4 linked regions of the Homo sapiens genome follow. The protein of the gene in region 4 purifies or fractionates together with the protein of the main gene of each other region. This does not show direct contact. Each region holds a gene or a part of one and is shown on either strand. Other genes may lie near its edges.

Region 1 (7,767 bases), on a different chromosome or scaffold from region 4:
GTTCTGACCTCTGATATTCCTGACCTCTGAGCCCTCTGATCTCACCTCCAAGTCCCAGCCCACATGGGGCTCTAACCCCAGGGCTATGCATCTCTGCCCACAGCTAGATCGGGGGTTACTGTCTGTGACAGTGACCAGGGGCTCGGGCCGTGCTTCCCATCTCCTTCTGGACCAGGTGACTGTCAGTGATGGCCGGTGGCACGATCTGCGGCTGGAGTTGCAGGAGGAACCAGGTGGCCGGCGGGGCCACCATGTCCTTATGGTCTCACTGGACTTTAGCCTCTTCCAGGTCTGGCCTCTGACCCCGGGGTAGTCTGTTCTCAGCCTTCCAACCAGATCCGCCTTATTTGACCCCACCTCTAGTCCAGCTCCTCTCAGTTCCCTCCACTGCACTGAGTCTGATGTTCTACCCCTAGTTCCCCACCATATATCCTTGCACTGAGCCCACCCACCAGCCAAGTTGGTCCACTCTCAAGCCCTCTTTGTGCCAGATTTGGGGCCTGGTCTTGGGGAACCTCTGTAGCCAGCACTTTGCCTGATTCCTAGAAGCCCCTTCTAGTCTCTGCCCCAGTCTCTACCCACCCCCGGTCAAAATCAAGCAATATTAAGGTCTACTGTGGGTCCAGGAGGGAGGGGGCAGCCTAGAAGGGCTAGAAGAAGGCCAAGACTGACTCTGGGCTATGACAGGGGTTCATCAGGCCCCTCTCCCTCAGTGCTGACTGCCCCACTTCCTCCAGGACACCATGGCGGTGGGGAGTGAGCTGCAGGGCCTGAAGGTAAAGCAGCTCCACGTGGGAGGCCTGCCCCCCGGCAGTGCAGAGGAGGCTCCTCAGGGTCTGGTTGGCTGCATCCAGGTGGGGGTCAGCATGGGAATGTGATATGGGGCATTAGGGTCAGGGGTCAGAAGTCAGGGGCTCCTTGGGACCTGAAAGGCAGTATTCAAGTGGGGGTTGGTGCGAGGGGGTGAATGACCCAGAGTTGAGAGCTAGGTCAAGCCTTTCTGTGGCATTGGAGGTGGGAGTCTAGCTTGGATTATCAAGGGCCTTTAGGAATCTGTGTCAGAAACAGCACAATTAGGGTCCCACAGGGGTACCAAATTGGGGATATTTTTGAGGCCTGGGTTTTTTGAGGGTATCAGAAGACTGCATGTCAAGGATCATCAGACCGGGTGGCTGGCTCTGCAGTACTTGAGGCTGAGGTGCCTTAACATGGTCTCACCCCTTGCTGGCTGTGTGTCCACAGGGGGTGTGGCTCGGCTCCACACCCTCTGGCTCCCCGGCCCTGCTACCCCCCAGCCACCGAGTGAATGCGGAGCCTGGCTGTGTTGTGACCAACGCCTGTGCCTCTGGGCCCTGCCCACCTCACGCAGACTGCCGGGACCTCTGGCAGACCTTTTCTTGCACCTGCCAGCCAGGTGAGCCTTGAGAGGGTTGGGGGAAGGGTGACCTGGGCAGGCGTTAGGGGCCCATGATGAAGACTGGGGAACCTGAAGGAGGCAGGGACTCGGGACGGGTGCCTGCTTCCTTCCATGCTCTGCGACCAGGATCCTGAGCTTTCTGACCCAATCTGCAGGTTACTACGGCCCAGGCTGTGTGGATGCCTGCCTCCTGAACCCCTGTCAGAACCAGGGATCATGCCGGCACCTGCCAGGAGCCCCCCATGGCTATACCTGTGACTGTGTGGGTGGCTATTTCGGGCACCACTGTGAGCACAGGTAAGAGGCTGGGGCTGAGGCGATGGGGAGACCTGGCAGGGACAGGGAGGGTCACTGGGATACCGTGGAGGCATCTTACCTGGCTCTGCACCCCCAGGATGGACCAGCAGTGCCCACGGGGCTGGTGGGGGAGCCCAACCTGTGGCCCCTGCAACTGTGATGTTCACAAAGGTTTTGATCCCAACTGCAACAAGACAAATGGGCAGTGTCACTGCAAGGTGCGCCTGGCCCCTGACCTTTTAACCCTTCCTTGGACGCAATCTGCAATTCCTGTCCAGCTTGCTGACCTCCGCCACCTGACTTGGGCCCTAACCTCTTGCCTGTGTCCTGTGACCAAGTTGCTGTCTCTCATCCTTTACCCGTGACCCCTCCCTTGGCTTCACGCATGACCCAGGTGTCCTCTGGCCCATGAGCACTGTTCTCTTGACCCTTTATCCTTGATTCCACTCATTCCCCAAGCCCTGACCTCTGACTTCAGGCCCCTGGCCCATCCTCAAACAGGAGTTCCACTACCGACCGCGGGGCAGTGACTCTTGCCTCCCATGTGACTGCTACCCTGTGGGCTCCACCTCGCGCTCATGTGCACCCCACAGCGGGCAGTGCCCCTGTCGCCCAGGAGCCCTTGGCCGCCAGTGCAACAGCTGTGACAGTCCCTTCGCAGAGGTGACAGCCAGCGGCTGCCGGGGTGAGCAGGCTCCACCCAGCTCCACCCATAGAGGGCTGGTTCCAGTGTGCCACCATCACGTGTCAGTGGCACACATGGCTCCTTGGGGACTCTGGAAGCTTCTCCTGAGGGAGACCACTTACACCCAGGGAACCCTACCTTTGCCCCAAGTACTTTGCTGACCTGTCACAGAATCTGACAGGTCAGCTCCTGAGAAGCCAGCAGGAGTGGCGGGCAGTGGGCCTTGTGGGGGGTGGTGGAGGGGCAGTGGGTGTGGCTGTCAACTGCCCTGTACCCTGACTGCCTGGCTCAGCACCTCTTCTCTCTCTAGTGCTCTATGATGCCTGCCCTAAGTCCCTGAGATCTGGTGTGTGGTGGCCCCAGACAAAGTTTGGCGTCCTGGCCACAGTGCCCTGTCCCCGGGGGGCCCTGGGTGAGTATGTGGGGGGAAAGGACATCACTGAGGGTGGGGGTGGGCCTGTACTCTGACTGCTAGAGCCATGTCTTTTCCTAAATTGGGTGGCTTTGTTCCTGCAAAGAGGTGGAAGTGGGGTGGGAGTCCATGTGGGCCCCTCCCTACACCCTCATTGAGCCTCCATCTGTTTCTCTTGGCTTCTGGGCAGGATTGCGGGGTGCAGGTAAGGGGTACGTGTTTGCTCAGGTGCACTGCCCCCTCCCACTACCAGAGCTTTTGCAGACCCCTCCTGCTGCCTGAGGTCCCTGCAGACCCCTCCCTGCTGCCTAAAGTCCCTGCAGGCCCCTTCTGGCTATCTGAGTACCCCAGGGGCCCTTCTCTGATGCCTGAGATCCTCAGAGACCCCTCCCCATTGCCTGAGGACCCTGCTGACCCCTTCTCAGTTCCTGGGGTCCCCATAGAACTTTCCCCACTGCCTGAGGTCACGAAAGATCCCTCCTCAGTCTGAGGACCCTATAGCTCCTTCCTGCTGCTTGGGGGCCCCTCCCCACTGCCTGAGGTCCCCTCAGAACACTCCCTGCTGCTTGAGGTCTCTGCAGTGGCTGGACAGAGATTGTTTGTGTACGCATGCTCACGTGTGTATCTCTGTGCCTGTGCACGTGTCTGTGAACCTGTTGCGGGGAGGGGATTCTGTGATTAAGTTAGGCTCTCTCTTGTTGGTAGCTACAAACTTTTTTAAGATCCAAGTCAATTCTCATTCAACCTCCATCCCAACCCCAGAGACAAGGGAGAGAAATGACAGCAAAGTAACCACTGGGGCAGTTAAAACTTGTGTGAGAATCCTCCCACCTGACTTTCACTGGATGTTCCTAGAAGCCCTCTTCTGTGTTGGCATGTCTGTGTGTGTGCGAGAGAGCATTGTGTGTCTGCGTACTGGTCTGGTCCATACATCTGTGTGTAATTGGTGAGCATTGGTGTGTGTCTGTGTGAACCAGCACATCTATGAGCCAGTCCTGGCCCACGTGGGTGAGTGTGTGCAGCCCCACCCTTGTGCTTTGTGTGGTTGCTGGTTGAGAATGGTCTACAGCCCTCTCAGGAATTGCCTGACAAGCAGCTGGGGCCTACCTGGGCTTGGGCCGCTACCTCCAGGGGTGCAGCTATAGATGCTCATGACTCTGACTTCTGCCTCAGGGATTCCCCCAGCATAGGAGAGGGTGCTGCGGTTATCTCCTCAGCAAAGGTATCCAGGCCCCAGGCCTGACCAGGGGTTGCCTGCCTCCAGGTGCTGCTGTGCGGCTGTGTGATGAGGCCCAGGGTTGGCTGGAGCCCGACCTCTTCAACTGTACCTCCCCTGCCTTTCGAGAGCTCAGTCTGCTGGTGAGACTGCCCAGACCTTTTCCTGCAACCTAAGACCTTCCTTGGCCTGTGGTGGGCCCCAGATACCACACCCTAGCCCTTGAACTCCTGAGCCTTTCCTGGTTGCCCTTTAATCTGGCAAGGCTTTCTCCCTGTGAAGCTTTAGAGGAAGGCCTAAGGGACCACAGAGCAACCATCTCCTTGTCTTGGCAGCTGGATGGCCTAGAGCTGAACAAGACGGCACTGGATACCATGGAGGCCAAGAAGCTGGCTCAGCGGCTACGGGAGGTGACTGGCCACACTGACCACTATTTTAGCCAAGATGTTCGAGTCACTGCCCGCCTGCTGGCCCACCTGCTGGCCTTCGAGAGCCATCAGCAGGGCTTCGGGCTGACAGCCACACAGGATGCCCACTTCAATGAGGTGGGGCTGTGCCCTATGTTCTCAGTGCCTTGGCCCCCCAGCTCCCAGCCTCCTGCCCCTGGATCCCCAGCTCAGGCTCCTGCTGTTCTCTTGGGAAGTGAAGGTCCTGGGCTCTCCCTCTGTCCTTGTCCTCTCCAGCCCCGCCCCCTTGCCTGTTGGAGCCCCTCTGAGCACCTGTCCAGACCTCTCATGCCTGCCCTATCCCCTCATACATCCTCACCACCTGGCTGAACCCAATTCTATCTCTGTCTTCCCAGAATCTGCTGTGGGCCGGCTCTGCACTGCTTGCCCCAGAGACAGGGGACTTGTGGGCGGCGCTGGGGCAGCGGGCCCCTGGGGGCTCCCCAGGCAGCGCGGGACTGGTGAGGCACCTGGAGGAGTATGCAGCCACACTCGCAAGGAATATGGAACTCACATACCTGAATCCCATGGGGCTGGTGACGCCTAATATCAGTGCGTTGTGGGTGGGGTAGGGCGGGGCACAGCAGGGGGGCCATGAAAGGGCAGGTACCTGAAGGTCTGAGGGGCTGTGGCTATCAATGCCAATGTTAATGGCAGGAGACTCAGCCACCGCCCTCAGCGTTTTGTAGGGACAGGCTCCGAGCTGGTAGCACAGAAAACAGATTGTGGGACTCAGGTGCGGGATGCGAGTAAGAGGGAGTAGAACCCTTGGCAGGGGGAAGAGGTCCATGATGGGCCTCCCCTTTCTTTCTCCTGGGTAGTGCTCAGCATTGACCGCATGGAGCACCCCAGTTCTCCCCGGGGGGCCCGTCGCTACCCTCGCTACCATAGCAACCTCTTTCGAGGCCAGGATGCCTGGGATCCTCACACCCATGTGCTGCTGCCTTCCCAGTCCCCACGGCCATCCCCATCTGAAGGTGAGAGCCCCTAGGGGACCCCTGGGCCAAGTCCTGTCTCTCTGTCCCCCCAACCAGATACTATGTTGCCCTCCTGCCAATTTTCCCCTTTCTAGACCTCCCCAGTGTCAGACCCTCCCACATCTCCCCTCCACCCTCCCTCCCATATTTCCCCTCCACCCTCCCTCCCACATCTCCCCTCCACCCTCCCACATCTCCCCTCCACCCTCCCTCCCACATCTCCCCTCCACCCTCCCTCCCACATCTCCCCTCCACCCTCCACCCTCCCACATCTCCCCTCCACCCTCCCTCCCACATCTCCCCTCCACCCTCCCTCCCACATCTCCCCTCCACCCTCCCTCCCACATCTCCCCTCCACCCTCCACCCTCCCACATCTCCCCTCCACCCTCCACCCTCCCACATCTCCCCTCCACCCTCCCTCCCACATCTCCCTTCCACCCTCCCTCCCACATCTCCCTTCCACCCTCCACCCTCCCACATCTCCCCTCCACCCACCACCCTGCCTCTCACATCTCCCCTCCACCCTCCACCCTCCCTCCCACATCTCCCCTCCACCCTCCACCCTCGACCCTCCCACATCTCCCCTCCACCCTCCACCCTCCCACATCTCCCCTCCACCCTCCACCCTCCCACATCTCCCCTCCACCCTCCCACATCTCCCCTCCACCCTCCCTCCCACATCTCCCCTCCACTGTCCACCTTGCCACACCTTCACTTTGTCAGAGCCTCTCCCTCATCACAAATGACCCCTCCCAGGCCTTGACTGTTACTTTCTGGGTTCATGCTCCCTGCACTCCCCAATTCTGCTCCTGCAGGGAAGAGACCCCCATGCTTGATCGGGTTCAGAGCTGGGTTGGTGGGTGCTTTGGGTCAAAGGTCACTGACAGAAGCTCCTCCTTCTCTCCTGGCAGTTCTGCCCACAAGCAGCAGCATAGAAAACTCCACCACCTCAAGTGTGGTCCCCCCACCAGCCCCGCCAGAGCCAGAGCCTGGGATCTCCATTATCATTCTCCTCGTTTACCGCACCTTAGGGGGACTGCTCCCTGCCCAGTTCCAGGCAGAACGCCGAGGTGCCAGGTACTCAGGCCCCTCACCCCTGAGCTTCCTACGAACTTCTCAGCCTGGCAGCCCCTTTTTTGGTGGGTAGATGCGTAGGTTCACAACACACAGAGAGGAGCACAGCTCCAGGGAGCCCCATCCTTGCCGGGTTCTGTGTGAATCTTATTCTCTGGAGTTGTGCAGAGTGACAGAGCCACAGGCTGACAGACACAGAGCCACACACAGGAGGGATCCATGAGCCAGGTACAGACAGACCAAAGGGCTGACAGAGACAGACAAGGACAGGCTGACTGATGGGGGTAGGAGGGAGGGCAATCAGAGGCAAACAGTTGCAGGTCCCCTGGAGCTGCTCAGCCCCTCAGCAGCCCAGCAGAAGCTGGAGGGATTCTTAGAAACAGCTTCCACTCTGGGGACATCCCAGACCCTGGGTCAGCCCTGGCGAGTGGCATGAAGACGGGGTGAGGCAAGCAGGCTGAGCATGGGGAGGTCAGCAGTGCGTAAGCCCAGATGGGTGTCTCCCCAGGCTTCCTCAGAACCCCGTCATGAACTCCCCGGTGGTCAGCGTGGCTGTGTTCCACGGACGCAACTTCCTAAGGGGAATCCTGGAGTCCCCCATCAGCCTAGAGTTTCGCCTGCTACAGACAGCGAATCGGAGCAAGGCGATCTGTGTGCAGTGGGACCCACCTGGCCTGTGAGGACCCCCATTCTGGAAACCCTTGGTCCCGTTAGCCCTTGGGAGGCCAACTAATAGTCCCAGCCTTCCCCTGGGGCCCCCACTAGTGCTGTTGTGCAACCCGGACCATGAGGAATGCTGTACCCCAACTCCAGGCACCCTCAGCCCTTCCCATGATCTCTCACAAACCCCTGCCTGACACTGGGTCACAGTTGTGTCTAACTGCCCTGTGGCTGCAGGGCGGAGCAGCATGGTGTGTGGACAGCACGGGACTGCGAGCTGGTGCACAGGAATGGGTCCCACGCACGGTGTCGCTGCAGCCGGACAGGGACCTTTGGGGTCCTCATGGATGCCTCTCCCCGTGAGGTGGGGCTGTGTTCAGTGTCCCAAGGAAGTGGGGGGTCAAAGGGACACGGGGATTCTGCCCAACAACCCATCAACCATCCCTGTCTCTGTAGAGGCTGGAGGGCGACCTGGAGCTGCTGGCTGTGTTCACCCACGTGGTCGTGGCTGTGTCTGTGGCTGCGCTGGTGCTGACTGCAGCCATCCTGCTGAGCCTGCGCAGCCTCAAGTCCAATGTGCGT
Region 2 (6,935 bases), on a different chromosome or scaffold from region 4:
ATCCTGCGCTGCTCACCCACAGAAAGCCAACCACTGAGATGAGTATTGCAAAGGAAGAAGGCTTTAATCAGATGCTGCAGCCGAGGAGATGGGAGCTCAGTCTCAAATCCCTCTCTCTGACCAACTAAAATTAGGGATTTTTAGTATAGCAAAGAAGAAATGTAACTATGTTTAAGAAAACATGAACTAGGAAGGGGTAAGGAAGCAATCATTTACAAAATATCTGTGGCCGGGCGCAGTGGCTCCCACCTGTAATCCCAGCACTTTGGGAGGCAGAGGCGGGTAGATCATGAGGTCAAGAGATCAAGACCATCCTGGCTAACATGGTGACCCCTTGTTCTCTACTAAAAATACAAAAATTAGTTGGGCGTGGTGGCACGTGCCTGTAGTCCCAGCTACTCGGGAGGCTGAGACAAAAGAATCGCTTGAACCCGGGAGGCGGAGGTTGCAGTGAGTCAAGATCGTGCCACTGTACTCCAGCCTGGCGACAGGGCTAGACTCCATCTCAAAAAAAAAAAAAAACCAGAAAAAGAAAAAAAGTATCTTCACCCTGCCTCCTCAATCTTGGCATAATTCCCCCTGCGAGTGGTTTCTGGGGTCTCAGTTGGCATTTAGTCACACATTGCACATATCGTGTGCACATCTGCACAGCTCAGCAGTGTCCTGGGTAGGCCTTGAAGGGTGATCTTCACGTAAGCCTGTGGCCTGAGCAAGAAAGCTGCACACGGGCAGCGGAGGAACCAGCAGGAGCCCAGTCCTCTGTGGAAAATTCCAGCACCACCCGCAAGAGCAGCTGCAGTGGAGACTGTGACCCGACAAGGATATATGCATGAAGATGCTGGTCTGAAAACAGACTCAGTTTAAGGGTGGCACTTTGAAAAAATATTGATAAATGTCAGTGAGAAAAAAATAATTAGAAACAAAATATATTTATTAGAAATATTACAGTCATTTATCATACACTTTCCTATGAATAGTTAAATACATCTAATTAGCATGTCATATCCAAAAGTGCTGGGTACAATCTAGTGTGCTCTTTATAGACACGAGGCCACAGATGTATCAACTACACTCAACTAATGTAGTTAAAGTTAGTGTGCTAAAAAAAAAAATTAGTGTGCTATTCAGGATGCTACAGATTTAGCAAAATTCTAACCTGGATCAGAGGAGTGAAATGCCCCGTGAATTGAGGCAACTGTAGATATTCGAAATGCTTCTAAAAAGGCTGTGAGGTTATGTCCTTTACTGCATGTCATTGGTAGGTCATCTCAAAATGGCACTCGAGCTTTGGAAGGGTGAGAACTATTGCTAGATTTGGTAGGGGGTCTGCATCTATGGGCCCGAGTCCTCCATCTCCACAAGCTGCCCCTCAGTGGGGAAGAGGAGGGGGAGGCTAAGGGAGTCTCCGTAACGTTTGTGGGCAGCAGGGAAGAGAACATGGCAGAGATTCCTCACCGCTGGATGGCTTGTCCCCTGGGGATGTGTGTTTTTATCTAACACCCACCTGCATCTACTTGGGTTGGTCTCTACAAAAGCTGTAAAACAAAAACTGAATGAAAAAGGAAAATAAAAGACTAATATTTTTGAAATGAGAAGGGGCTAGGACAAGAGAAGCTCCTGAGAATGTTATCCCCGCAGGGCGGGGGCCATGGGTTACCATCAGACAAGGAAAATTCAATCCATGTTCAATGCAGAGAACAGCGACTTCTCACCTTGAAAAACTCTCCAACTCTACTGGGGCTTGCATTTTGCAGCTGTCTTTCATGTAAAAATGATACATTAAAAAAAGGATCTTCAGAACAACTGAAGAATTTTAAATGACTACTGGCTGAGGGAAGATGGAAAGAAATGTGGCTGTTGTGGTCTTTGAAATCCTCAGGACAGAAACTGGGAATGGCACACTCTGCTGAGTATAGAAAAAATAAGATGCTGACCTTGTTTTCCTGCCAACTTTCCACCTTCACCTGGTGCTCTGAGCTCTGTTAAAAACAGACCTAAAAACCCTACCCCTTGGCCTAGCTGGGTTGGGGACTGCCTCCCCCAGGTCCTGCACCTCCACACGCCAGCGGATGGCTTGGGGGAGCCCTACTAGCTGCTGTGCTAGAAGGCCTATTCCTGGACTCCTGAGGCCATCAGTCACAGTTCCAGGACCCCAGCAGAACCTTCCCTTCCCCAAAACACCACCTGTATTTCTTTTTTTTGTGTGTGTGTGTGACAGGGTCTTGCTCTTTGGCCCAGGCCAGAGTGCAGTGGCACAAACACAGCTTACTGCAGCCTCAAACTCCTGGGCTCAAGTGATGCTCCCACCTCAGCCTCCCAAGCAGCTGAGATTACAGGTGCCTATCATTGTACCCAGCTAATTAAAAAACAAAATTTTGGGCCAGGCGCGGTGGCTTACCCCTGTAGTCCCAGCACTTTGGGAGGTTGAGGCAGGCTTATCACTTGAGGTCAGGAGTTCAAGACCAGCCTGGCCAACATGGTGAAACTGTTTCTACTAAAAATACAAAAATATGCCAGGCATGGTGGCATGTGCCTATAATCCCAGCTACTTAGGAGGCTAAGGCAGGAGAATCTCTTGAACCTGGGAGGCGGAAGTTGTAATAAGCCAAGATCACACTACTCTAGCCTGGGTGACAGAGAAGTGAGACGCTCTCTCAAAAAAAAAAAAAAAAAAAAATTTTTTTATAGAGTCAGAGGTCTTGCCATGTTGCCCAGGCTGGTCTCAAACTCCTGGGCTCAAGCAATCCTCCCACCTCAGCCTCCCAAAGTGCTGGGATTATAGGCATGAGCCACCATGCCTGACCACCATGTGTATTTCTATGGACAGGACATGGCATTCCTCTTCTACATGCACACCACTGGCAAATAAAAAAAAAAAAAATGGTAGTCGGGGAAACTCCTGGAGTTGTAAAAATAAATTGTACATGGCCTTTCATGTTTCTTTCCTTCTTTTTAACCTAAAGAGAGCAGGATACAGACAAAAATGGGGGAGTTTGGCCACAGTCATTGGCAACTTGGGCTCCCAGTGGAGAGGGGCTGGTATGGCCCCAGCGGGGAGGGAGGGACACCGCAACGCCATTGCTCAGAGCTGGTTCTAGATGATTTACACGTAATCACTCAAAATAGAGCCAATCACAGGCCAGGTGTGGTGGCTCACTCCTGAGTGAGCTGAAATCGCGCCACTGGCACTCCAGCCTGGGCGACAGAGCAAGACTCTGTCTCAAAAAAAAAAACAAACAAACAACAACAAAAAAAACACAAAAAAACAGCCGGGCTCAGTGGCTCATGCCTGTAATCCCAGCACTTTGGGAGGCTGAGGCAGGCAGATCACCTTGCCATCAGGAGTTCGAGACCAGCCGGGCCAACATGGTGAAACCCCCTCTTTACTAAAAATACAAAAACATTAGCTGGGTGTGGTGATGGGCACCTGTAATCCCAGCCACATGGGAGGCTGAGGCAGGAGAATCGCTTAAACACGGGCGGCGGAGGTTGCAGTGAGCTGAGACGGTGCTATTGCCCTCCAGCCTGGGCAATAAGGATGAAACTCCATCTCAAAATAAATAAGTAAAAATAAAAAACAGAACCAATCACAGAAAACACCCACTCCCACTCCGGGTATCCCAAGACAGCAACTGCCTCCCCACATAAAACCCTGGACTAATTCCAGCTTAAATCTAACAACCAACAGCTCAACTCAACTACTTGGGATATTACTTTCCCCCACTTTAATGGTGGGCAAAGAAGAAGTACAGGGTTAATAAAAAAAAAATGCTTCAAACAAGTGCCTGAATCAGCAGAAGTAGTAACTTTCAGGTTGAATTGGTTCTATGTGTCGAGTTTCATTTAAATACAAAGGCATGGGTGATGTAATGACCATCGCCCAACAGCTGCTCAGGAGCTCCCGCAGGCTGCCTGCCTTGTGGCTGCCAGGGGAAGGTGTCCACCCCTCAGTGGTTCTCCAAGCAGCTGTGCTTCAGTCGCCTAAAGAACTTACAAAACATGTGAACTGCATCTCTGGTCCCATTCCAGACATTCTGAAGTTAACCAACTAGGGCAGCCAAGAGTGTTTTCAAAAGGGTCCACTGTAGGTTCTGATGCAGAGCTGCAGCTGGGATGCACTAACAGGGGGGCGGAGTTCTTGTCTCAAGGTGGCTTGAGAATCAGGGATCTGCTGACCCGTGCAGCCCAGTTGCCACCTCTGCAAAGGTCTGGCTTGGAGGAAGGGACTGAGCTCCTACCTCTCCAGGAATGGTAAGGGGCTGGACCTGCAGCCTCTAGAACCTGGCTCTGAACCAGTGGCTCAGATCAGCAATCAGAGATGTACTTTGAATAGTAATGGCAGTCACTGTCATTCTCGGTGACTCACTGGAAGGATGATCCTTTGTTGGAGGGGCGCTAACACGCTATTTGGCACTTAAAACAGCAAGGGATGGGCATTACCCATTTCCCTCAAACAACTGTGTGAGCCACGCCCTCACTCGCTGTGTAGTGCACACAGATCCGCCCAGAAGAACACGGCAGAGCCACCAGATGGGCACTCGGGCCGGACTGAGCACTTCTGAGGGACTGGGGCACCGCTGGGGAGGGCTCTGCTGCCACTTAAGGTGACCAGTAGGATGCTGGGGCAACTGCATTCTTCTTTGTTAGTTATAAATGTGCCCTCACCGCCCACCCCTAAGGGCTTTTCCCATGCCGATGAAAGAGGCCTGGGGAAGCACTAAAGGCCAAATCAGTCCAGAGCCGAAATACTGTTGGGATTTGCTGTCAGCCCAGCATCCCCAGAGGCACACACCCTCAGCCTGCTCAACCCTGTAAAGCAGACACAGGCCATTCACACATGTGACCTCCTGTCAAGTTCTGTGGGGTACAAGCCTGTGTGGATGTGAACGGGAGGGTAAACGAATGGGAGGACAAAGGCGCAGGTGACGAGGACTGCGGTTTCCCTACTGTGAAAGCCGCGAGCTGCTCAGGAGCACACAGACTTTGGTGGCAGAGGTGTGGGGCACCTCCCAGGGACTCCAGCAAAGCAGCCAGGGGCTCCCTTGCATTCTCACAGGCTTTCCTTTTGCTACAATAAATCAAATAAGGGATGGTGAGAGCTAAAAGTGAATCAAGTTCCAGGTGTTAACATTGTTACCTAGAACTCCCATTTTTCCCCAAAAGGCTGAGTGCGCACGCACGTTTCCAGGTTGCCCTGGAACAAATGTTTATTTTTTGTGTTTTGTTGTTTTTTTTTGGGGGGGGAGGGGGGAAGGGAGGGTTCACAAGGGCAAAGTTTTGGGTTTTATCATTTTTTTGAGACAGGGTCTGGCTCTTTCACACAGGCTGGAGTGCAGTGGTATGCTCATAGCTCACTGCAGCCTCGAACTCCTGGGCTCAAACGATCCTACTGCCTTGGCTTCCTAAAGTGCTGGGATTACAGCCACGAGCTACCACACCCAGCCAAGGGCAAAGGTTTCATAAAGGCAAAGCCGGGATATTTTTAACAACAGCAACCAAAAGACTGATTTGGAGATGTTCTTTGTCTGAATTTCTGCAGATAATGTGTTCGTTCAGCCACCCAATATAATCAGCAAAACAAGCCTGGGTGTGGGGTCTTGGTCTGGAAGGAGGGAGGCTGCCCTCTTTAGAAGCATCCCACAAGAGATCAAAGAGTCCCCAATTTACAGTCCAGCTGCATTTGCATTTCAGACAGGTACATCGTGGGACCCACTCTGTTTCTTATTTGGGTGTTGGTCCACTTGGATTGAGCCTGTCTTTGAAGTCTAGGCAGCTGGGTGGTGGGCAGAGCAGGGTCAGTGGACAGTAATCAGGCGCTTCCAGGAAAAGCTGCAGTAGGTGGCAATGGTGGCTGCCCCAGGCCCTCCAGGGTTACGTCTCAAAGTACTTGTAGATTTGGGCCACGTACTGCATCACACTCTGCCAGTCGGGCCGGTCTGTGTACAGCATCTCGCTGAGTTCCTGCAGGGGAAGGGAATGGGGGACAGATCACAAGGCAGGACATCACAGACCCCTTCCCCTCAAGGACTTCAGTCCAGGTTAGGGCTTACACTGCCTGGAAACCCTCCACTTACACAGACAGAACGTGAAGGCCAGCACAGGTGGTGCTGAAAGCGATGAGTTAAAGGACTTTTCCTCCCACTTATTCAGGAGATACTGTCCCTTTCCAAAAACGGAAAACATGACCTCCCACTGCTTTTATCTTTTAACCATATGACAGCATTTAAACAAGTTTTAAAAAGCAAAAATCACCCATAATTTCACTATTAAAATGATTTCCAAGTTTCTAAATTACATTTGAATCCACCTCTAATTCCCCAGACTCCCAGCACACTGCACGCGCTATTACGTGGGCTGTGCCATTACGTGGGCTGAGCATTTCACACCCGGGTCCCCGTGCTGCTGTGCCACTGTGCGGGCTGCCATTCTAGTGAATGTGCACTCACCAGGGAAACTGCTGTCCACAAGGGACATGGCATCCAGTGTACGCTCACCTCGTGACCACCACAGACTCTGCAATCAGCATCTTTGTGCAGTATTGTTTCCTTCTGTCGAACTAGTCCCTCAAGATAAATTACTGAGTGGGATTATCACAAAAGCCTTGAACCAATTTCAAATGCAACCATTTATTTTACCAGCATTGTTACTACTTAATGTGTTTTTTTGTTTGTTTGTTATTTAATACAGTTTGGTGATTTTTTGGCTTATTTTTATTTTACTTTTGCTAATTTGCTGGTTTTTACTGACTGATTTATTTTTGTTCATTTTGCAAGTAAGCTTGTAATGAGCATGCATAACATCCAGGCCAGAAAGGGAGGGGCAAGAGGGTGGGCATCCTGTCAGGCACTCAAACTTTTCTGAAATTTGTGCCACTGGACATATTTAATAATTAACTTTGGGATTGAATTTGGATTCTGTGTGGTTAAAAGAGAATA
Region 3 (7,264 bases), on a different chromosome or scaffold from region 4:
ATAATTCACAGTTACAGGCCCTCAATATTTTATCAATATATACTATCTAGACATCATATTGAGCATGCTATCAATAAAATCATATGGGCAAATAATCATACTATATTCACCTATGTAGCTACAAGATAGAAGTCACGAATTTTAACACTCCATTAGACTATTGCATCTGAAAAACTTACAACTGCCAACCATCAAAGCACAACTAATTTATCATCACACTCACACCATTCTTCCAAGTTACAAGGTCCAGTCCTAACACTTCTGATGACTCAAGAGCACAGAACAATTATACCTATAGAAAAATGCATATCCAAATTTAACCTTAATTTTTAAAGAATGGCTTCTTCTGATGTGTATTTTCTTAAGGATTAGACAGCAATGAACAAGGGCATACAATAGGAATACTTGATTCACCACCGTGTTCTATAACAAGTTGCATTATTATAATAAGTTTCTTTTTTTAAATAAACTCTATATTCTTGGTTTAAATGCTTACTATTCAAACTGCCCCCAAGAGCCAGTAACTGCCCACACTGACCCAAGGTGGTTTTAGTGAAAAGTCACCCATCAAGTTGCATTATTATAGTAAGTTTCTTTTTTTAAATAAACTCTATATTCTTGGTTTAAATGCTTACTATTCAAACCGCCCCCAACAGAGCCAGTAACTGCCCACACTGACCCAAGCTGGTTTTAGTGAAAAGTCACCCATCTTTGGAAACAAGGGCTTTTTCCACGAATATGCTAGAAATAGCAGGTGCACCATTACACAAAATTGGAGAGAACAGAAATTTACCTCACTCCTACAGACCATTTCTCAGAGCATGCTGTGTAGTTGCTAAAATCAGTATGCTGCGTAAAAGTTAAGAAAAAATGTATGTCTAACAGTGGTTCCCTATCAACTAGCCTCTGGTAGGCACTACATAAAATGCATTAAGACGGGTTTGCTGGATGTTCTGGCACCTATTATCAGGTGATTTTTTAACAGAGATGTGAAGATGCTTTTAGCAGGAGAATGGGCACACCAGAGAATACAGAATGTGGCTAATTACGACGAGAAGAAGATTCTGCCTTCACCTCCCCTCACTGTCAACCACTTTGCGTAAGTGCTCTCACTGCCTCGCCCTAACCCTGGGGATCCATTCACTTTTCATAGCTCAGAGAGGCTGCTGAAAAGCTGTCAAAGTAAATCTGTGCTCACTTTTTGGATGGTTTAATTTCAATGGAGCATGAAACACCCCAGGACGGTTAATAAGTTTAGCCAGGCGTGCTGTTATCCCTAATATATTTTAATTATGCATCTGTTTTAATTGTAATCAGATTAAGACACCGGAAGGACACAAATTGGAATTTTCCCTAATGGATATAGGGGCTTTTCATCACTTTCTGAACACTAATAACGTTTAAAAGATAGGAAGAGACACCAACACAACGGTGACATTTTCCAGAAATCGATGCAGTTTCTTTGACAACACAGTTCAGGTCTCATTAGCCACCCAAACTAACCTAAGTGCAGAAGACAACTTCAGTCTCTAGGGGCGTCTTCTTCTCCAATTAGTACAAAAGAACCACTAACATCTAATGTACAACTCCCAAACAGAAATGAGAAAGCCGAGGCTTTTATAAAGTGCTGCCCAATGGATTGGTGAAGGAGGCTAGGGCGGCGGGAGAGACCATCAGCAGCATTATTTTGGCTCAAAGTAAAAGTCTATACACGTTAAAAGGGAAAGTTAAAGCAGAGAACGATCTCCCTTTTCACAATTTTGGCAACTATCAAACGTGTGTTTTAACTTCGGGAAATAAAAGTGTCCCATCAATAAAAGGAAACGGGACAGGGAGGATCTATCAGGGATCGAGGAGAGGCTTCCTCCCAACCAGACGTAAAATCACTTAATGTGCTTTGTTGCATCAAGGAATACCTAAGACTTTAATTTAATACGTTCATTAAACAGTTTCCCAAATTGCCGGGATTTCCGCTAAGAAACTCAAGCGTCTGCCAACAGCCGAGAAGCAAGGGAGAGAACCTGCTGCAAACTAGGAGCGGAAACTCCCTCGGCCCGCCCAGCGCGCCTCACGTCCCCGGTGTTTGATTTAGGTGTTAATGTTTACGTGTCGCCTAAACCATCAGGTGCTGAACCAGTTCCTCCAAGACGCACTTTGAGCCTTAAAGAGGGAAGCTTCAGAGCCACTGCGGAGTGTGCCCCCTGCAGCCCGTCGCCCCCTCCTCTCGGCCCCTTACCTGTCATCATAGCAGAAATCCGCACTCAGGGTGTTGAGATACAAGGCGAGCCCCAGAGCGCTGCTCACCAACTCTGCAATCATCTCTCCACCGCCTTCCCTCCGGCTCGGCTCCCAGCGCGAGGGCAGCAGCGGCAACAAAAAACAGAAGCATCAATCTCCACCTTCCGCCGCCTTCTCCTCCCAGCTTCACTTTTCCCTCGCTTCCCCACCCTCCCTCCCTCGGGTCCTTCCAATCCACGACTCCTCTCCTCCTCCTCGCGCCCGTCTCCGCAGCTCCTGCGTCCTCCCCGGGTGCGGGCTCACACCACACTCCCCATGCCCGGCGCCCGCAAGCGGTGAGCGGCGTTTGGGCTCCGCGTCCCCCGGCGGAAGCGCAGGGCTGGTCTTTCGCGCGGGTCGCGATCCCCACCCTAACCCATGGCAGTTTGGGGCGTCCTAGGTGAGGAGTGGGACTCGGAGGAGGTGGAAGGGTGCGGGATGGGGGCAGAGGGACCGGACCAAGCCGGGCTCTGGGACCAGCTGGAGGAAGAGAGAGAAAGAGGCGCGGGTGGGAGGGACAAGGCGAACCGCCTCCCCTCGCCGCCTCCCGGGCGCACTGCTCCGGTGTCGCTCGGGCGGACTCCGGCCGCCAAGGCAGCTGCTGCACATTCAATGTTTATTAGCTCCCTCCCAGCCCCAGCCCCAGCCCCAGCCCCAGCTCCCTTCTCCAGTGAAGTGAGAAGCGGTGGCTGGAGACTCCAGAAGCTCCCGCGTGGGGTTCTCGACGCGGCCCCCCGCGCCTGCGTGACCAACCCTCCATCCCGGCTTGGCCCAGCCCCTTTCTCCACCCAGATCCTCCCGGAAGGCTCCTCCTACCCTGCCCCTCGGGCTGGAGGCTCCTCCCACCCTCCCCGGCCTGGAGGCTCCTCCTACCAGCCTCCCGTCCTCTTGTTTCTTTCACCTTCGATTTCACTCTGGAAAGCCCCCGGGACCCAAGGGCGACGGCTGGAAGACAGCCCAAAGGAGTAGATACAGTGCACCCTGGGAGGGGAAGCTGGGAGAAAGGAGGTCGAGGAGGAGGTGGTCGGTCGCCCCGCTGCTGCCTGGCAGCGCCTGGCACGGCTGAATCTCAGCCACAGCGCTGTGTGTGCCAAGAGCTGCCAGGCGTAAGTCCGGTCAGCTGGAGAGACTTCTGAGACCGGGAGAGGAAGAACAGGTTTGGCGACTGCTGCAGCTTCGGTTGTCACAAACTCACTGGCGATCTCTCACGCACACTGTGTGTGAGACTAAATGGGGGGGAGGAGGTAGTATTGGAGAGCTTGGAGGCAACTTAGGAAGGAGAGATTTCAGCTCTTAGCCTACGGTTGGCCACAATGTCAGTGGAAAGACGTGTAGGGAGAGAAACGTTTCCTCCTTCAGTAAGGTTAAAAAGAAAGGACCCCAAAAAGGGAAAGAAAGACACACACACACCCCGCAGCAACTGCCCGGGGACCCCTTCGTGGTTTCAGAGGGACTGTCGGGTTGACCCTGAGAACACAGGAGAGAAACCTCTAGTGCAAGCCGGTACAGCATTATACTTAAACCTAGTAAGGCAGTAAGCTAATGCCCTTTCCTTTCCGCTCGGAGGCAGGACTGGATGGAAAGCATCCAACATGGTGAAATATGGTGTAGAATGGTCTGTGTAGAACAAGCTCTGGGTACTAAAGTTGCAAGACCAAAGAGGACCCAGGGCTGCCTGACACGCCTCCTCCCGGCTTGTTGGCTTTCTGGCCAGGAGAGTAGCTCCGGTGCACCGCGATGTACACTACTGCAGCGCCCCCTGCTGCATAGTAACCACAAGGTGTGGAAGACAGGTCTGTTTTGCATGCGGGCCGACTGGTTCCAACCAAGAGCAGCACCTAACCAGCAAGCTCTCCGAAACTGTGGCAAGAAATTGAGCCCCCTGGGTGTCTAGCAGTGGCCTGGAAAGAAAATACCGTGGTCTGGGCTTCTGTAGAACAAAGCTACATATTTCCCTGATTTCACAAGGAAATCTGAGAAATCTGTATTGGATACACACAGATAAAATGATGAATATTTATTAATATTATACCTGTTATGCCATCCACAGTAGCACATTTTTTGTGCCCTGGACAAATATATGTAAACAAAAATAAAAGGAATTATGTCTTTACAGGTAGGGACTGATCTTTTACCCTTTTCCTCCATAACCTTTGCTCACTTGAAAATTTTGAAAATCATATCAGTTAGTCCATCCTGATGCTCTGTGTCTCTCCAATGCACTTACATGCTGAGATATATATAGTATATATAAAATATGTATATGGTGTCCTAGAACACTGAAGGAAGAACACATACTGTGGGATCAGATGTTTAAGTTTGAGTGCATACTCTGCTATTACTATTTGGGCGATCTTTGGCCAGTCGTTCAACCTCTTTGTGACTCTGTTTTCTAATCTATGAAACAGTGATAATAATAGTACTTATCTTATGAGTACTGTTATTATGAGTATTAAAGTAGTTAACCTATGTAAAATATCTAAAAGGGACCAGGAAAGTGCTACAGAAGTATTAGCTAGTATATCATTATTACTATGCTTTCTAGCTTCCTCGTTTCATTTTACTTGTTAACAAAAACCTGGACAGTTACCTCCAAAACACATCCTATCACATCTTTACTACTTGAGTCCACAGCCCAGCTGCCCTCATCTCCTGCATAGACAAATGCAGTAGCCCTCTAAGTGGTCCCCGTACTTCTACCCCTGCAATGCCTCCCTTCCCCAATTTTAACTTTAGGCAGAAGTTTCCTTTGAAAACCTATACATTCCCAATTTTTAAATGTTCCACAACTTCCTGTTGTATTTTTAAATGTCCAACAACTTCCTGTTTTACAGCTAATAAAACTAATTCTTACCATGGCCAGCCAAGCCTTCATTTAGCCCAGACTACCCCTCCCGCTTCATGTTGTGTTCATATGTGTACAACACAGACATCCTTCTCAGGAACTAACCACTTTCTCTTCCTCCTGCATGAGGTTCTTCTCCTCAAACCTTCTCTAGCTCCTTCTCACCATTCAGGTCTTAGCTCAAATGGCATAACCTCAGAAATAAAGTAGGCTCTCCCCCATCAATCTCTATCCAACCACCATGTATTAGTTTCTTCATAGTATGTATTAGTATCTGGAAGCACCACTGAGTGGAAGCTCCATGAGGTCAGGGATCCTGTCAGTCTTCTTTTCCACATAAAACCCAGAGCCTATAACATCTGGACACGGAGAAGAAACTTTAAAAAGATTGTTAATAAATGAACAAAATAAATGTGCTTAGGAGAAACTACGTAACAGCTGGAAAATCCAAAAATTTTCATCGCTGATTTATTGTTTGTCGTTAGTGTTAAAGATCGTGAAGTATTAACCAAGGAGAGAGGAAGGGAGCAGGTTCACAGTTTTTCAGAATACATCAAGTCTGCAGGAATACCCGTGAAGGGGAGTCACATGGACAGGTCTCTTCAGTTATTAAGAGGACTCAGATATGTAAAAATATTAGAGAGCTTTGGGTTCCACATGCTAAAAGCTTGTAAGCCTTTTCCACAGCTGTGTTCATTTTTAAGGCTCCAATAGTTTAATTTAATTTTTAATTTTTTTTTTTTTTTGAAACAGAATCTCACTCTGTCGCCCAAGCTGGAGTGCAGTGGCCCGATCTTGGCTCACTACAACCTCTGCCTCCCGGGCTCAAGCGATTCTCCTGCCTCAGCATCCCCAGTAGCTGGGATTGTAGGTGTGTGCCATCAAGCCCGACTAATTTTTGTATTTTTAATAGAGACGGGGGTTTTACCATGTTGCCCACGCTGGTCTTGAACTCCTGACCTCAAGTTATCCACTTGCCTTGGCCTCCCAAAGTGCTGGGATTATAGGCATGAGCCACTGCGCCCAGCCATGGCTCCAATAGTTTTAAATAAATTTTATACACTCCTCCATCTCCTCGTTTTCTCCTTTCCCCACCTCCCAATACCTCTGAATTGGAAGCCTAGGTGACTGGGAGATGGGCTGTAAAATGGCACATCTTGCCTTCCCTGATAAACAGAAGGCTGAAAACCTAGCTGTGTTTGAGAAATCCAGTTGCTTTTAACAAATTTTTCTATTATAATTTAATGTAGGTTTCAATATCCTTCCAGAGCATTAAGCCATGGTCTCTTTTAGATTGCTCTCCAAGGGCTGAGAAGCAGCCAATTCCTGAATTTTCTACCTTCCTGGAACAACTTTAGGAGGAAAATCAGATTAAAGATGTCATCATTATTGTTGGAGATCATTTAAAATCTGAGGACATAGGTTTTTAGTTTATCAAGGTGTACTTATTTGATGTAAGGTTGCAGCATCAGTTCTGAATATGTGTATGTTCTATTTAAAGCGACAGTTGCTCTCCACAGGTGAAGGAAATTAGGATGGCTGGCTTGAATTTTCTACCTTAGACACAATACTGGCCAAAAAAGCGCTAAGCCCTTATTTTCCTGAAGTAGGCTCCACACATCTGCTACCTCACCACTTCCTCAATGAATTCCTTTTTATAGTAGCCCCGACCTACCCTGCATTTGTTCTGCATTCTCAGTCCTTTGTTGTATAATTCATACCTTTGCAGTGCCAGTTCCTCAGGGTAAAGATTTCCTTATTTGCCTAAGACATTTTTAGTTTATTGTGCAATACTATCTTCCCTTTGGGTGTTGCATAAATATTAACTAAAGATCCACATCTGGTCCTGGTCGTCATTTCTATTTGTCCTAATATAACTTCTCTTTGAACAATTCATTTGGAAAGTGTGCCAAGGGTGAAATGTGGCACGTAAATTCTCTTGCTGCACAGAATGCTTTTTAAAGTGCCCACAGATTTGGTTATTTATGAGCAGGAGATTTGCGCCTCTTCCTTGCTCTCTCAATTCTAAAATTGTACTGGGCCAAAATAATTACAATCTTCCATATGTTTTCTGAAAAGGTATCCAAGTATCTCCTGCTAAAATTTTAACAGATTGACTAAGAAGCAGAAAAACACTAGCCC
Region 4 (8,259 bases):
ATCAGTAAATTATTGTACACTTGGAAAGGATTAAAACCTTAAAATTATTCATTAGAAATGGATTAACTACCTGTTACTTAATATAAAAAGGATTTACAATGTTATTCACAATGATATGCAATACTTGAAAATTGAAAATAGGCCTGGCCGCCTGTAATCCCAGCACTTTGGGAGGCTGAGGGGAGTGCATCTCTTGAGCTCAGAAGTTAAAGGCCAGCCTAAGAAATATGGTGACGATCCGTCTCTACAAAAAATACAAGAAGTAGCCGGGCATGGTGGCGCACGCCTGTAGTCCCAGCTACTTGGAGGCGGAGGTGGGCTGGTCTCTTGAGCCCAGGAGGCAGAGGTTGCAGTGAGCTGAGATCCTGCCACTGACCTCTAGTCTGGGTGACTAAGACTCTGTATCAAAAAAAAGAAAAGAAAAGAAAAAAAAAAGGCCGGGCGCAGTGGCTCACACCGGTAATCACAGCACTTTGGGAGGCCGTGGCGGGTGGAACATGAGGTCAAGAGTTTAAAACCTGCCCGGCCAACGTGGTGAAACCCCGTCTCTACTAAAGATAAAAAAAAAAAAAATTTAGCCGAGCGTGGTGGTGGGCGCCTGTAATGCCAGCTACTCGGGAGGCTGATGCAGGAGAATTGCTTGAACCCGAGAGGCGGAGGGTGCAGTGAGCTGAGATCACACCATTGCACTCCAGCCAGGGCGACAGAATGAGACTCGGTCTCAAAAAAAAAAAAAAAATTGGGGGAGAAAAGAAAAAATTAAAAATACAATTAGTCGTATTGCATAATAACGTAACTAGTTTAAGACTAAATAATATTGATATGGTTACATAAAACTAAAAAAGTACATGCAAATGTAAATAGCATTCTTACTAAAAATTAAATCCAAAGCTATTTCGAAAGGTGGAGTTTTCTTCACTATTCTTCCCAAGACCTTTTGCCTGGATATTAGGGATAACCGGTTTTAGGAACTTGAATTCATTTGTCTCGGAACCTCCCGTCAGACACACCTCGTACTGGTAGCTCTGGGAAAGGGTCCCGGTGCCGCTCACGTCCACCAGATGCCCTGGAAAGGGGCCCTTAGGCACCGAGCAGCTTCCCACCGAGGCCGCCCTGCTCCTCCTGCACAGCCGCACCGCCACGAACAGGAGCACCGAGAAGAGGAAGAGCGAAGACACCGAGGCCAACGCCACCACCAAGTAGACGGTGAGCGAGTCGGCCTGGGCCTGGGCCGGTGCCGCCTCAGGGAGCGGCAGGTAGGGCTGGGAGAAGCCGTCCACCAGGAGCACTTGCAGCGTGGCGGTGGCCGAGCGCGGAGGCTCGCCATTGTCCTTGACCAGCACCACCAGCCTGTGCTTGGCCGCGTCGCGCTCGCTCAGCAGCCTGGCGGTGCGCACCTCGCCATTGTGCGCCCACACGCCGAATAGCCCGGGCTCCGTGGCCTTGAGCAGCTGGTACGACAGCCAGGCGTTCTGGCCCGAGTCGCCGTCCACCGCCACCACCTTGGTCACCAGGTAGCCCGGCTCGGCCGCCCGGGGCACCAGCTCGGTGCAGGGCGCGGAGCCGTTCTGCAGCGGGTACAGCACGAAGGGCGAGTTGTCGTTGGCGTCCAGCACCAGCACGCGCACCAGCGCCTCGCTGCTCAAAGCCGGGGAGCCGCGGTCTGTGGCGCCCACGCGGAAGTCGAAAGCCTGCAGGGCCTCGTAGTCCAGCGACCTGAGGGCGAACAGGTGGCCGTTGTCTGTGTTGATGGAGACCAGGGAGGCGAGGGGCAGGTGCAGGTCCTGGGGCGGGAGTAGCGAGTAGTTGACCTGGGCGTTGGTGCCTGAGTCTCTGTCTGTAGCGCTGACACTGCCGATGTGCAGGGCGGGGCTGTTGTTCTCGCGGACGAACAGGGTGTAGGAGGTTTGGGTGAAGGTGGGGGCGTTGTCATTGACGTCAGAGACCAACACAGTTGTGTTGTGCTCGGTTTTCAGCCTGGGTATCCCCAAGTCGGTGACGGTGATGGTGATATTGTACTCGGCTGTGCTCTCTCTGTCCAGTGGTCTCTCTGTTTCCAACGTGTAGTAATTCTCAACTGAAGATTTTAGCACGAATGGGAGGTCTTCCGGAATGGAACAAACAATTCTTCCGTTGTCCCCAGAGTCTATATCTTGGATACTAAAAACCATAACCACGGTCTCTGGCGTATTTTCTGGGATTGGACTGGTAATTGATGACACAGTGATTTCAGGAGCATTGTCATTTACATCTATCACGTGAATTATGACTGTAGATTTTCCAAAAAGTCCTCCCCCATCTGTGGCTTGAATGATTATTGAGTATGACTCAATCGTTTCAAAATCCAGAGGTGCTCTTAAAGTAATTTCTCCAGACTTTTGATTAATTTCAAATGTCTTGCGAATATCTTCTGAGGCATGGGAAAAGGTATAGCATATTTCACCATTTGTTCCAGAGTCTAAATCCCAAGCTGAGACAATCAAAATCAGCGAGCCAAGGATGCTATTCTCCCGAATCTTCACCTCATAAAAAGCCTGCTCAAATTCAGGGGAGTTGTCATTAATGTCCACAACCACCACCCTGACCAAGGCAGTTCCAGACCTGGGAGGGGACCCACCATCCAGAGCAGAGAGGATGAAACTGAGCTCCGGGAGCTCTTCATAATCCAGCGCCTTGTCCAGAACTAACTCGGGGTATTTCCTATTGTCTGGAATGACTCTCATTTTAATGTGAAAATGAGAGTTGGGGCTTATTGTGTAGCTTTTTACAGCATTGATTCCTACATCTAAATCCTTCGCACTTTCTAGTAAGAACACAGCACCAACGGGACTGTTCTCTGGGATTTCTAGGAGCATTTGTTTTTCCGAGAAGATGGGAGAGTGATCATTTATATCCCTGACCTGAAGCTCAATTTGTAAAAACTGCGTGGGGTTTTGCATTAACACCTGCAAATGTAGCACGCAAGGCTCGATGGAACCGCAGAGCTCCTCCCTGTCTAGTGTTTCACTTAAGAGCAAATCCCCAGTGTTTATGTCCAGCTGCAAACGCTGTTTCTTATCATTAGAGACCACCCGAGCCCCCCGTGAGGACAGTTCTCTCACCTTCAGCCCCAGGTCCTTTGCCAGATTGCCTACAAAACTCCCGCTCTGCATTTCTTCTGCCACAGAAAAGCTCCAGGTTTCAGAGCCCGCCTGAGACATTCCGAGCAAAACAAAGAGAAGCAGGACTTGCCTTATCTGCTGAGTGCGTGTCCCTTGGTTCTCCATAGTTCCTTTCTTGTAGGCTTCTTGAAGAAAGGCTTCAGCTCTGCGGAACGCGTCTCTGACTTGTCCACCAAATCCTCTGTGGTCTAAGGATTTTAACCCTGTTGAATGGTTTCCAGGTCACCCTCTTGAAGGCTTGTTGTTTCTGTCTTCTGATTCTCTGTGTGCACTGGATATCAGTGTTCACAACGCCATCCAGTGAATATATTTTTCACGATGTTATCCTGCAGCGCCACCAAGTGTCTCCATAGATTTTCACAGTTTGGTGAAAGCTACCTAAATTCCATTCACTTATATGTCCTCCGGAAACAAATATTGTTTTATTCATTGTGTTCAAGTGATTACAAATATATTGCACGTTCTGTAATAATTATTTCATATTCTCTTTAGTTTGATATGCTGTTAATATTCATCTTAAAGCATTTATCTTTCCCCCTTCTCCATACAACCAAACGTGCTTAGTTGTGGTGAATACAGAAATACAAGATGTGATTCCTGGCTCCCAGTGGTTTGTAATCTTTCTGAGAAGACTGGAAACATAAAACAACCATAATATTTTTAAGCTGTACAAAATTCTATCACTACTTGACTTTCCTTAGGTGGTAATGAAAAGGCAAACTATACATGGGTCATTTTAGAAGTCCTCTCAGAGGATATGAAACTGGATTAACCATGAGATGGGACATACTTTGATAGTTATGATAGCACAAGAAGGCATTTATATAGATTTCCTTGGTAGCAAGGAATTGTGAACTGCTAGAAAGTAAAGTAAGATATTGGGAGTAGAACACATTATGAGAATCCTTGATTTAGTTCCAGCTTCTCAAAAAATAATAAATACACAAGCACAAGCATGTTAGTTTCATTTAAAGCAGGCTTATTTCTAAGACTGCCCTCCCTCAGTTTCCCAAGATTTATTCCAGCAACATCTATGGCTATCTGCTTTGTTTTTCAGCTCAAGAAGACAGAATGAGAGATATTTTCTTCCTCAATAATAGAACAAAATCTTAGCCTTCATTCTGATTAGACCAACTGAGAGCACTTCAGCCTGTTACTGAAGAAATCAGTGTCTCAAGATGTATAGGATTAAAGGTAGAGATTATAGTCCCAGAATCTAAAGACTCCATCTTTGACCCTTTGTTTTAATCCAGGCAGAGATTGCCCCTTAAACTTGAGGTGGTTTCAGTCCTAGCCAAAGTGCATGGCATAATGAGGGAGATAGTTGGAATAGGTGCTTGGAAACTACCAATGGTATCCACTGTTAGACATCTCAAAGTACTCTCAATAATGGAGGACATCTAAGAAGTCTGCTTTTAAAAATTCTAATTTCAAATTACATTCACAAAAATGTGAACTAGATACATGGTTGAAAAATTATCAGTGCAGAAGAGTAGAAATTGAATAGTATGTGGATTGACTATACAATTATCCTTCCTTCTTCTTAACCCCTCTCTAAAATGACAGAAAAGTAATAAAAGGTATGAATTCACAAAGACTAAGAATACATAAGTAAATACACAAATTATTTGATGATAGAAAGCAGATGAAAGAGCAATTGACAATAGTTCCAAGAAATGTCTAAAATAAAGTTCCTTCATTGGAGATACTAAAAATAAACTACTGGGTTTTCCCTACACAATCCTAGTAGGTACCAGACTTGGAGGAACCAGGTGTATAAGAAGGCTGAAGTCAAGTAAGGGCTTAAAAAAGAAGTTATTAGTTGAAAGTATGTATGTAGGATAGTTGAATTCTCTGGTCTTTTCACCATCATACAGAGACAAGAAAATAACTGAGAGCCAGAGAATGGAAAGCTTATACTCTGGAGAAATTAGATTATATTCTGGAGAAATTATACTATCTCCAGTCTTGGAAACCCCAGGCAGAGCTGAGTGAAAGTAGGAGGTATGAAACTAAAGATAGGGAGATTAGGCAAAACACTGCCTTCTGTATTGTGAGACTCCTAGCCATGATACTCTCAGATTGTAGGACACAAGATATATGCCTGACATCTTCCCCATCGCACCCAAAACATTGAATATTGTAGAATTCTATCCTGGGGAATATGAAAGGCGCAGATAAAGACTTACATGTACTGATATGTGGGGGTTTCCCAAGGTAGTAGCTCTATCCTAGCATGGTTACATTAGAGTGAAGCCCTGTCATCAATACTCATGAAGTGTTGACTGTCAGCATTTGCTGTGTCACCATTCATATATATAATAAGACAGTCAAAGATAACAAGACATTTGAGAAAATGCCTACAACATGAAATAGAAAAGCCAAAACTGTAATACTACCGCCAAGCACAAAAAGCAACAGGAGGGAATAGATATAATTCAGAAAACAAAAGAAAGCCTTTTAAAATGTCTGATTAGTATCCCCAGAGAAACAAAATGTAATAAGAGCTAACACTTATTGACTTATTCTAAGTTCATTATTCTAGTGCCTCATATGGATTTACCTAGTTGATGTTAACAGTAACCCTATCAAGTACGTATTTATACCTGGAAGACAAAGAATAGCTTAGGGCTTAAGTGCCCCTTACTAGCTATATAGCCTTAGGCAAATTCTTAACTTCCCTTTGATTCACTTGCAAGTTTAAAATAGGTATAATAATAACTCTTACTATATAATGCATTTTTAAAGAATAAATAGATTAATTATAGATGAAAGAAGATTTACATTTGCAAATTTGTAATAGGATGTTATGAAAAACCAAGAGCTCTTAAAAATAAATATTTGCTATCCAAAAAGAAAAACTTAAATATGGAGATTGGATGATTAAATAAATTGTCTAATAAGTAGAACAAGAGATGGAAAAGAAGAAAAAAATTATAATTTAGAGTCTCAGAAAATCAACACAGGAGGTGCAATATTTAATGAGATTCTGGTTAAAGTGAGACTGTAGAAAACTCAATGGATAAATTATTACTAAAACATAACAAGAAAATTTCTCAGAACTTACAGTAAGAGTCTATATGTTAACAGGGTATGCCTGCATGGCCAGATTAATAAATAAAATGCCTGTATTAAGGTCTTTTCAGATTACCAGGAAAAAGTTTTTCAATGCTTCCAGGAAAGGAGGTAAGAGAGAAGGACACAAAGAGAGATGGAATCAAAATCAAGTCAGTCTTCTGAAGAAACTCGACATGCAATGAGTAAAAGAGACAGCTTCAGCTTTCAAAATTTGAGGGAAAATTATTTTCAAACTAGAATTTTATACCCAGTCAAACTATCAAGCAAATGAAAACAAACAAAAAAGATGTCTTCACAATGTAAGGAGACAATTTTTTAAAAATCTCTTCTGCATTCGTTTATATGAAGGTCTTGAGAGATGCGTGCCAGCTGAATAAGAGAGTAAACTAGAAAAAAGAGTATACTGGACCTTGGAAAAGTAGACTCATACAGGAAAGTATTGAAGGGAAAAAGTCCCAGGGTAACAGTCTATAGATTAACCAGTCTAAATGAAACAGGAAACTCACGATGAAAGAGCTCCTGAAAATAAATGTCATTGACAGAGTATCTTAAAAATTGGAATATTTTTAAGGAGAAAATACATTCAAATGAAAGATATGGAAAAAAACAATAGAGGTACATAGAAAATAATGCAAGTATGAAATAACAATTACGAACTCTAGGAACCATACTTTTCAAGTATGGAAATGTAATTCTAGTACAGTATACAAATGCATATTCTGAAGCATGTAACAATATAGATAATAACCACTAATTTAACTAAGAAACTGTGACATCTATATTGGAGAATAGGAGAAAAAGAATTTGCAATGTTTGCATATGTTTGTTAGTTTGGAAATAAAGCTAAAATGCTTTTCTATTATAGAAAGAAATGGTTCAAATACAAAACAATATCAAGATATAGTATTATAAACATATTATTTATAAATATTGAGATCAATTCAAGAAGAAACCACACTGTGGTAAGGGACTGGCAGAACAGCTAACTTAAAAAACTATAAAATGTTAGTTATATATAGTATATATTTTATATATAGTAATATAAAAAAACTGATGAAACTTGTTTTTCATTCTAACCTTTAGTTCCTCTTGCTTATTAAAAATTTGGTATTTAAAATAAATTTGCAACATATAAATGAATATCTCCAGCAATCTCAACCACACATTTCAAAATGTTTTATTTTTATTCATTTTCAGGCAGATTATAATTTTATTTCAATTATAAGGCATAGTCTGTTTTATACATCAGCAAAAGTTAACATAAGAAAATATTGGCCAAGTAAAAGTAGCATGCTTAAAGATAAAATAATAAGTATATAAACTAAGGGTATTATTGATGTTCAGTATTGCTCACAATATGCTTTGTTTCATTTTGTCATGAGCATAGTAGTAGAGAAATATTTCTTTTTAAATACATGATGTAGAAATAAATGACATGGTTTTCAAACACGAATATATAGAATGTTAGAATGAGTTTGGAAATGTAGATATGCCTTCTTAAATAGAGCAAGTACACTATAGACAGAAGTGATTAGAATCATGAGATGCAAGCTCTGAAATGAATCAAAACCTCAGATTTCTGTAATGAGATATAATAGTAATTAATTCCTTGGGCAGTTGGAAAGAATTAAAACCTTAACACTATCATTTAGAAAAAAATACTCATTAAATTAAACCCAGTTGTTATTAATGCAAAAAAATGATGAAACATTGTAAAACCACAGGGGTATACTACTTGAAAATAATGCTTGAAGTTGCATAATAACTTAAATTTGAGATTTAAAAGTAAACTAATAGAAACATGGCTATGTAACACACCAAAAGTATATGAAACTAAAAACAGACTTTACTGAATATTAAATCCAAAGCTATTTCGGAAGGTGGAATTTTCTTCACCCTTCCTCCCAGGGCCCTGTGCCTGAATATCCGAAATAACTGGTTTCAAGAACTTGAACTCACTGGTCCCGGGGCCTCCCGTCAGACACACCTCATACTGGTAGCTCTGGGACAGGGTCTCAGC

Evidence for each region.
Region 1: the proteins of PCDHB11 (region 4) and CELSR3 purify together in Homo sapiens (affinity purification with mass spectrometry; 2 studies listed by BioGRID and IntAct, with this or other methods). This does not show direct contact.
Region 2: the proteins of PCDHB11 (region 4) and SPECC1 purify together in Homo sapiens (co-immunoprecipitation; 3 studies listed by BioGRID and IntAct, with this or other methods). This does not show direct contact.
Region 3: the proteins of PCDHB11 (region 4) and TMTC2 purify together in Homo sapiens (affinity purification with mass spectrometry; 2 studies listed by BioGRID and IntAct, with this or other methods). This does not show direct contact.

What each region holds. Positions count from the first base shown.
Region 1 is NC_000003.12:48,645,524-48,653,290, reverse strand, and holds part of CELSR3 (cadherin EGF LAG seven-pass G-type receptor 3 precursor), read left to right. Parts: intron 1-103; coding exon 104-289; intron 290-737; coding exon 738-854; intron 855-1,242; coding exon 1,243-1,414; intron 1,415-1,572; coding exon 1,573-1,714; intron 1,715-1,811; coding exon 1,812-1,932; intron 1,933-2,215; coding exon 2,216-2,399; intron 2,400-2,709; coding exon 2,710-2,811; intron 2,812-4,075; coding exon 4,076-4,170; intron 4,171-4,362; coding exon 4,363-4,572; intron 4,573-4,829; coding exon 4,830-5,025; intron 5,026-5,294; coding exon 5,295-5,450; intron 5,451-6,362; coding exon 6,363-6,528; intron 6,529-7,033; coding exon 7,034-7,201; intron 7,202-7,422; coding exon 7,423-7,549; intron 7,550-7,641; coding exon 7,642-7,767. UniProt on the Homo sapiens protein: Receptor that may have an important role in cell/cell signaling during nervous system formation.
Region 2 is NC_000017.11:20,313,002-20,319,936, reverse strand, and holds the end of SPECC1 (cytospin-B), read right to left. Parts: intron 5,962-6,935; coding exon 5,872-5,961; 3' UTR 911-5,871; downstream 1-910.
Region 3 is NC_000012.12:82,682,642-82,689,905, reverse strand, and holds the start of TMTC2 (protein O-mannosyl-transferase TMTC2 isoform 1 precursor), read right to left. Parts: upstream 3,001-7,264; 5' UTR 2,320-3,000; coding exon 2,237-2,319; intron 1-2,236. UniProt on the Homo sapiens protein: Transfers mannosyl residues to the hydroxyl group of serine or threonine residues.
Region 4 is NC_000005.10:141,194,782-141,203,040, reverse strand, and holds the start of PCDHB11 (protocadherin beta-11 precursor), read right to left. Parts: upstream 3,415-8,259; 5' UTR 3,267-3,414; coding exon 873-3,266; 3' UTR 1-872. Other genes in the region: PCDHB10 (protocadherin beta-10 precursor), read right to left, coding at 8,086-8,259. UniProt on the Homo sapiens protein: Potential calcium-dependent cell-adhesion protein. May be involved in the establishment and maintenance of specific neuronal connections in the brain.